2 linked regions of the Homo sapiens genome follow. The protein of the gene in region 2 purifies or fractionates together with the protein of the main gene of each other region. This does not show direct contact. Each region holds a gene or a part of one and is shown on either strand. Other genes may lie near its edges. The genes, in order: ATL2 and SLC7A13.

Region 1 (3,825 bases), on a different chromosome or scaffold from region 2:
TTGCATATAGTTTAATTTATTTATTCTCATTGCTGTATAGTATCTATTGAATGAATAGACAACAGTTTTTCCATTCTGCTGTTGATGGGAGATTTAGGTAGTTTCCAGGTTTTAATTATAAATAGCGCATATTTTGTTAAAATTGTTTTCCAGAAGAGTGTTTAGGAGACTGTGTGAGTTATATTGGGATAAATGAGTAATTATCTAAAATGTTTCTAAGTTTAAGATTTTTTTCCCCCTAATACATGGCAGTTTCCCTTCTCAAAATTCTGGTAACTAGCATAAATCATAAATAATCATGTAGAGAGGGACCTGAAATTCTAACACATTTCTAAGGTCTTTGTACTGCACTGTAATTTTTTTTATCTTAGCTTTTACTTTGTTCAGGGGCTAAACTTTTTATTTGTAGGCAAATTTATACTTTTTTTTTTGTTTTGTTCTGTTTTGTTGCTGTTGTAAGTACTTTAAAGGTAAATTCTTAATTTATTTACTGGTGTATAAGTCACAGCCATAATTTGTTATTTGGTTATTAGATACTGTGATTAACTACCTTATTTGTAGTTTTTGCTGTTCCAGGCAGCTTACTTGGGAAAAACATCTTTTGTGGTTTAAGAAAATGTGGGGTTGGCTGGGTGCGGTGGCTCATGCCTGTAATCCCAGCACTTTGGGAGGCCGAGGCGGGTGGATTACCTGAGGTTGGAAGTTCAAGATCAGCCTGACCAACCCTGTCTCTACTAAAAATACAAAATTAGCCGGGCATGGTGGTGCACGCCTGTAATCCCAGCTACTCGGGAGGCTGAGGCAGGAGAATCACTTGAACCTGGGAGGCGGAGGTTGCGGTGAGCCGAGATTGCACCATTGCACTCCAGCCTGGGCAACAAGAGCGAAACTCTGTCTTTAAAAAAAAAAAAAAAAAAAAAAAAGTGGGGTCTTAACAAAGTGGTCAGAAATGGGCCTTCATAATTTTTTGTATTGTCAAAAAAGACTCCTTAGGAGTACCATCTGAGTTAAGTGTGCATAGTGTGCATGCGAGTCTGTGTGCATTTTCTTTAAAAAAATTTTCTTTCTTCTGTTTACAATTTCACCTGTCTCTCTCCGCCCTCAGGTAAAACAAAATCAACATGAAGAGCTTCAGAATGTAAGGAAGCACATACACAATTGTTTCTCAAATCTTGGTTGCTTCCTTTTGCCACATCCTGGTCTTAAAGTTGCAACTAATCCTAGTTTTGATGGGAGATTGAAAGGTGGGAATTCCCATTCTTGCTAAAATCTGAACTTATTTATTAGAGGTGGAAAGTTTTTTAAGAAAATACATGACGCCTTAAATGTCCTGTCTTATACTGGAGAATGTTTGGATGCATTGTTCATGTTGTGGTTGTAATGCTCTGTGTTGTTTCTCTAGCATTCCATTGATTTGTTTGCAGCTGTCTAGCATATTGATTAACCTATTTTATAATGTCTGTTGCTCAGCAGTGATGTCCTGAAAATTCTGAAGGCTGAGAGCATTTCTTTTCAATTGATTGCAGTCTGCTAAAAGGCTTTATCATTTTATTATATTGATGAAATCAGATATAAGTGTCTGTTTCAGGAGTGATAGTACAGTTTATGTATGTTGTAGGATTATTTTGAGTGTGTTGGCAAAACATTTGGGGATTGACAAAACTTTTACAGTATGGCTGGTAAAACATAATCTAGTAGTAAAATTTAATACAATTTTATGAATTGTTTGCCTCTTGAAAAGGACATTTTCGTTAATACTAAATGTGAAATTTGTCTTGGTAGTCCACAAATTTATTGATGTTTTATTTGTTATTTGAACTGGCAGTGTTACTAGGGGGTTGGGGAAAATGGGCTAGTAGAGTAAGGGGGATTATATTTTTTCCTATGAGATATGGCATGTTGGATGAGCTTTTTTTTAAAAAATGAATCCACTTCAGTAATAGATACTATGTATTCTTATTTCATAAAACAGAATTTTATGAAATCGTACCAGTGGGGACCTAATTTTTTTTGGACTAATATGTTGCTCAATTTTTTGTTTTCTAGATATTGATGAAGACTTTAAACGAGAGCTTCGAAATCTGGTTCCATTGCTGCTTGCCCCTGAAAATTTGGTAGAAAAAGAGATAAGTGGATCTAAAGTCACTTGTAGAGATCTTGTAGAATATTTTAAGGTAGGTGAGCTCTTAAACAGTTTTGTCTAAGATAGAAATGTAGTTGACTTAAAACTCATCTGTATGTATAAGAAATTTCTTGTCTTTATTTTAAAACAAAAAAGAGTAAGATTTGTGATTTATCTTTCTGCCTTGAATTAGATGTATCTGTATTTAAGGATATTTAAAAGATTATAGCAGATTTCTGTCTCCTAGACAGTGATTTAATTTATTTACAGAATTATCTTACTTTTTCTCCATCTCAGATATGGAGAGAACAAGCCATTCATCATACTCTAATACTACTCTGTCATTAGTGAATGATAATAGGAATGGAAAGCATAATTTTACATCCTAAGTTCTCACAAAAACACTCCCTCAGAGTTCTGAGGACTTGATAAGAACAGCTGAAAGTATTTATATTGGTTCAAGTAAAGTACTCTTAGGTTTTTTTTTTTTCCCTCTGTTCTTCTCTAGTCTTTATAGCTTGCCTGCCAGAACAAGACCGCTGTGGAAGGTTGTATTATTTGTAGTAGTTTTAACTAAGAGTGTATTTTGTTCACTTATTGGATACTTGATAGTTACTCTCATATTATCTTTGTTTAGTTATGAATGAATTTTTTAAAATTTATTTTTACTTTTAATTTTTAATTTTTGTGGGTACGTAGTATATATACTTATGGGGTACATGAGATATTTTTGATACAGGCATACAATGTCTAATAATCATATTAGAGTAAATAGGGTGTCCATCACCTCAAGCCTGTATCCCTTCCTTATGTTACAGACAATCCAATTATACTCTTTGTTATTTTAAAATGTATAGTAAGTTATTATTGACTGTAACTACATTGTTATGCTATCAAATACTAGATCTTATTCTAACTATATTTTTGTACCCATTAACCATCTCTGCCTCCCCTCCACCCTCTGACTACCTTTCCTAGACTCTAGTAACCATCTTTCTAGTACTCTCTATCGCATGAGTTCAGTTGTTTAAATTTTTAGCTCCCACAAATAAGTGAGAACATGTGAAGTTTGTTTTTTCTGTGTCTGGCTTATTTCACTTAACATAAAGTCCTCCAGTTCCACCATGTTGTTGGAAATGACAGGATCTCATTCTTTTATATGGATGAGTAGTACTTCATCGTGTATATGTACCACATTTCTTTATCCATTCGTATATTGATAGACACAGGTTGCTTCCAAATTGTAGCTGTAGTGACTAGTGCTGCAGTAAACATGAAAGTGCAGATGTATCTTCTATATACTGATTTTTTTCTTTTGGGTATATACCTAGCAGCAGCATTGCTGGATCATATGGTCGTTTTATTTTTAGTCTTTTGAGGAACCCCCAAACTGTTCTCCATAGTGGTTGTACTAATTTACCTTTCTGCCAACAGTGTACGAAGATTCCCTTTTCTCTACATCCTTGCCAACATTTGTTATTGCCTGTCTTTTGGATAAAAACAATTTTAAATGGAGAAAGATGATATCTTTCTGTAGTTTTGATTTGCATTTCTCTGATGATCAGTGATGTTTTCATATCCTGTATCCCATTTGTTTGTCTCCTTTTGAGAAATGTCTGTTCAGATCTTTTGCCCGTTTTTTGATCAGATCATTTGATTTTTTTTTCTTTTCCCTGTAGAGTTGTTTGAACTCCTTATATAGT
Region 2 (3,735 bases):
TGCAACCTCCACCTCCCGAGTTCAAACGATTATCCTGCCTCAGCCTCCCAAGTAGCTGTGATTACAGGTGCACACCACCACACCCAGCTCATTTTGTATTTTTGGTAGAGACGGGTTTTCATCATGTTGGCCAGGCTGGCCTCGAACTCCTAACCTCAAGTAATCCACCTGTCTCAGCCTTCTAAAGTGCTGGGATTACAGGCATGAGCTACCTCACCCAGCCCCATGCTTCTAAAATAGTTATTAGCTTGAAAAAAAATGGGGCCAGGCACAGCGGCCCATGCCTGTAATCCCAACACTTTGGGAGCCCGAGGTGGGCGAATCACAAGTTCAGGAGTTTGAGACCAGCCTAGCCAATATGGTGAAACTCAGTCTCTGCCAAAAATACAAAAATCAGCTGGGTATAGTGGCAGGTGCCTATAATCCCAGCTACTCGGGAGGCTGAGGCAGGAGAATCTCTTGAACCCAGGAGGTGGAGGTTGCAGTGAGCAGAGATCACACCACTGCACTCCAGCCTGGGCGACAGAGTGAGACTCCATCTCAAAAAGAAAAAAAAAAGTGCTACATTCTGGAAGGGAAAAGCCAACTGAAAAATGGAATTATTCTTTTCATTTTCAAATCAGCATCTTCCCCGGCCCCGCCCACCTCACACAAAAAGGACTCAGTAAGATGAAGAGAAGGAATGCTTTTAAAATTTTTAGTCATTCACTTTTATTATAGGATCCCCACAAATTCAGTAGAAAAGGGGTGGGATACAGAAAAAAAAAGTGAGAGAATGGAAGTTGTATAATCACTCTATCAAGCTACGCAAACCAGGACTTAAGTTTTTTACCATGCGAAGCAGAGCTTTTAGCAATTTCTTAGTGACTCTGAAGCCAGGTACTGTCTTAGGCACTTTTGTATACATTACTTATTTCATTTGAGAAAAAAATATTTACCATAGGAATTTCACCATGAATGTTCTATCATATGTTTAACCTTGATTTGGAATCTGATATATGTTTTTTAGAAGGCCAATTTTTTAAGAGTTTGCACTTCCGACATCTATTCCTCAGACACATCAGGGAGGCAAATATTAAATAGTAATTGTAAATAGCAAGTCATCTTCTCAAACCAAGCCAATCTTATTTTAAAATGTATTAAAGGTATGTAAAATAGTAATCCGCTGAGAACTAACAGAAGCACGTAGACATAATGCACATTTGGAGACTTTACCAATGGTATCACAACCAAGCCCACGTCGATGACTATTGTTGCTAATGGAAATGACAAAAACACCTGAAAAGAGCAAAGTTTGAAAAAATATTGGATATGAACATCCATGAATGATACCTGCATATTCATATAAATAAAAATGCAAAGATACAAGCTAATTAAAGAAAACAGGCTAAATTAGCTGTAAAGTTGAATAAATCTGGCTTAGAAGTCAGATAAATGCCTGAGTGAAAGGAGATGTTGAAGACTGTCATTGTCAGGTTGGAGGGAATGGGCATCTAGCATTTGACTGCTCATGAATGGAAATAACTAGAACCATTTGCTGGTAAGATCACTATCTACTGATCTGGGTACCATGAATCTGTTAAGAGGGAGTTTCTAAGGCCCAATGGAAGTAACAACAATCTTCTCTGGAAAATATCTCAAGGCAGTAAGAAATTCATGACAAAACAGAAAGACTATCCTCAGACTGTCTGTTACACAGGTAAATACTGACAGGTAAATGTTGTAACTTTATAGGCTCAGCATATTAAAAAAAAAATCAAGACAAAAATTTTAGCTAAAACAATTTTCCCTGTTTTATGTTTTGTTTTTGCTTTGCCAAAAGCCTTAAAGACCAGTCCCTGGTACCTGCTTTGTGTTAGAATTGTAAGAGTTCTCTACAACATTACCCAATCTAGGGAGAAAATCGATATAAGATATAACTGATATGAATCTATATTCCCCAAAGATATATATTACACAGCTAGTCATAATTTATGAAACAAAACCCTTTAATTAGAGGATCATTTGTTGGGATTTAATCATTAAGAATATCTTCTTGGCCGGGCACAGTTGCTTACGCCTATAATCCCAACACTTTGTGAGGTCAAGGTGGATGGATCACGAGATCAGGAGATCGAGATCAGCCTGGGCAACATGGTGAAACACCGTCTCTACTAAAATTACAAAAGTTAGCTGGGTGTGGTGGCAGGCACCTGTAATCCCAGCTACTTGGGAGGCTGAGGCAGGAGAATCTCTTGAACCCAGGAAGCAGAGGTTGCAGCAAGCCAAGATCATGCCACTGCACTCCAGCTTCTCCAGCCTGGACGACAAGAATGAGACTCTGTCTCAAAAAAAAGAAAAAACAAAGAATCTCTTCTTAGCTTATAAAGCGTCCCAGAAAAAGATACTTTATCATCTCATGGCTCAGTATCAGTTATCAAATAACTGAGAGAAAAGAAAAGAGCACTCCTGGGGGCATACAAGACAAATTTCAGCCACTTGTACTTAAGGCTGCCCTTGCCTTCCTTTCTGATGCAAATGTAAGTTGAATAATAATATAAGCAATAATAGCCATCAATGTCAGACCCTGGATTGTTTGCATGCCTTAGCTTACTTAATACCTCCAACGTTAATATGAGGTAGGTATTATTTTTTCCCATTTTAGATCGGAAGAAACTGAGGTTCAGAGGTTCAATAACAAGACTAAACTCAGCTACTAGCCAAGCAACTGGACTTGAGCCCAAAACTCTTAATGATTATCTTATACTGTTATTTGTATATAACAAATTTATCCTCCAGTTCATAACTTCTTTATAATTGTATCTATTAGGGTCAGTGATCTAACAAAATGTGGATCAGAAAACAGCAAAAGACATGTTAAAAAGATGCAGCATGTGAAACTATACAGAAAGCAGACGTTAGGCAGGCACCTCCAAGGGGGACTGTGGCCATCAGCCCTGCTCTAGATTAGATCTCTCTCCCTATGTGCTCTCTGAGCATCCTCTGCAGACCACTAGGTAGCAATCGTCACACCGTGATTTTTGGTTTACATGACTGTCCAGATAGATTATAACCTGCCTAAAAGCAGGAGCCAAGTCTTAATTCTTTTTCTACTGAAAGTACCTAGCAAGGTGCTTAAAATATAGTTGCTTCTTGACAACTAATACTCAAACACACAACAATTAAGAGATGACTGGTTGGAAGAAGTTGGAAAGAAGACTGGAAAGGAAGGACATAAATCAACCATAGTTGGTGATGAGAACATTGCTTTCTTTCTCTCAGCAGTTCTTTCTTATATTTTGTATTTAGCAAGATTTAAACACTCCAAAGAGACTGCCTAGATTTGAATCTTGGCTCTAATCCATGCTGTGTGAGCTTGAGCAAGTGACCTAACTTTTCTAAATCTGTTTTCTTATCTGTAAAATGGAAATAACAATTGAATCCACCTTTTTATTACTAAGAGGATTAAAGGTGATCATCCAAGCAAAGCTTTGAACATCCTACCTAGGCAACTAAGATTATTTTATTATTCTGATAATCAGACCGTCAGGGCCATCTTTCTCCAATAACGTTCTTATGCTACCAAGTTTTGCTGCTTATTTCCTTTTCTACAATTAAGTGGTTGTCTCCTCTCCTGTGAAAAGTTTTTTCATCCAGACTGAAAGTCAGTTTAAAATAAGTAAAGTTGAAAAGATGTAATTTGCCAACAAAGTAAGCTGATGTTTCAGAACAGTAGATGTTATCACTTGTGACCTC

The links.
Region 1: the proteins of SLC7A13 (region 2) and ATL2 purify together in Homo sapiens (affinity purification with mass spectrometry; one large-scale study listed by BioGRID and IntAct). This does not show direct contact.

Annotation. Positions count from the first base shown.
Region 1 is NC_000002.12:38,307,728-38,311,552, reverse strand, and holds part of ATL2 (atlastin-2), read left to right. Parts: intron 1-1,105; coding exon 1,106-1,244; intron 1,245-2,046; coding exon 2,047-2,174; intron 2,175-3,825. UniProt on the Homo sapiens protein: Atlastin-2 (ATL2) is a membrane-anchored GTPase that mediates the GTP-dependent fusion of endoplasmic reticulum (ER) membranes, maintaining the continuous ER network. It facilitates the formation of three-way junctions where ER tubules intersect.
Region 2 is NC_000008.11:86,213,369-86,217,103, forward strand, and holds the end of SLC7A13 (solute carrier family 7 member 13), read right to left. Parts: intron 1,279-3,735; coding exon 1,045-1,278; 3' UTR 695-1,044; downstream 1-694. UniProt on the Homo sapiens protein: Associates with SLC3A1/rBAT to form a functional heterodimeric complex that transports anionic and neutral amino acids across the apical plasma membrane of renal epithelium.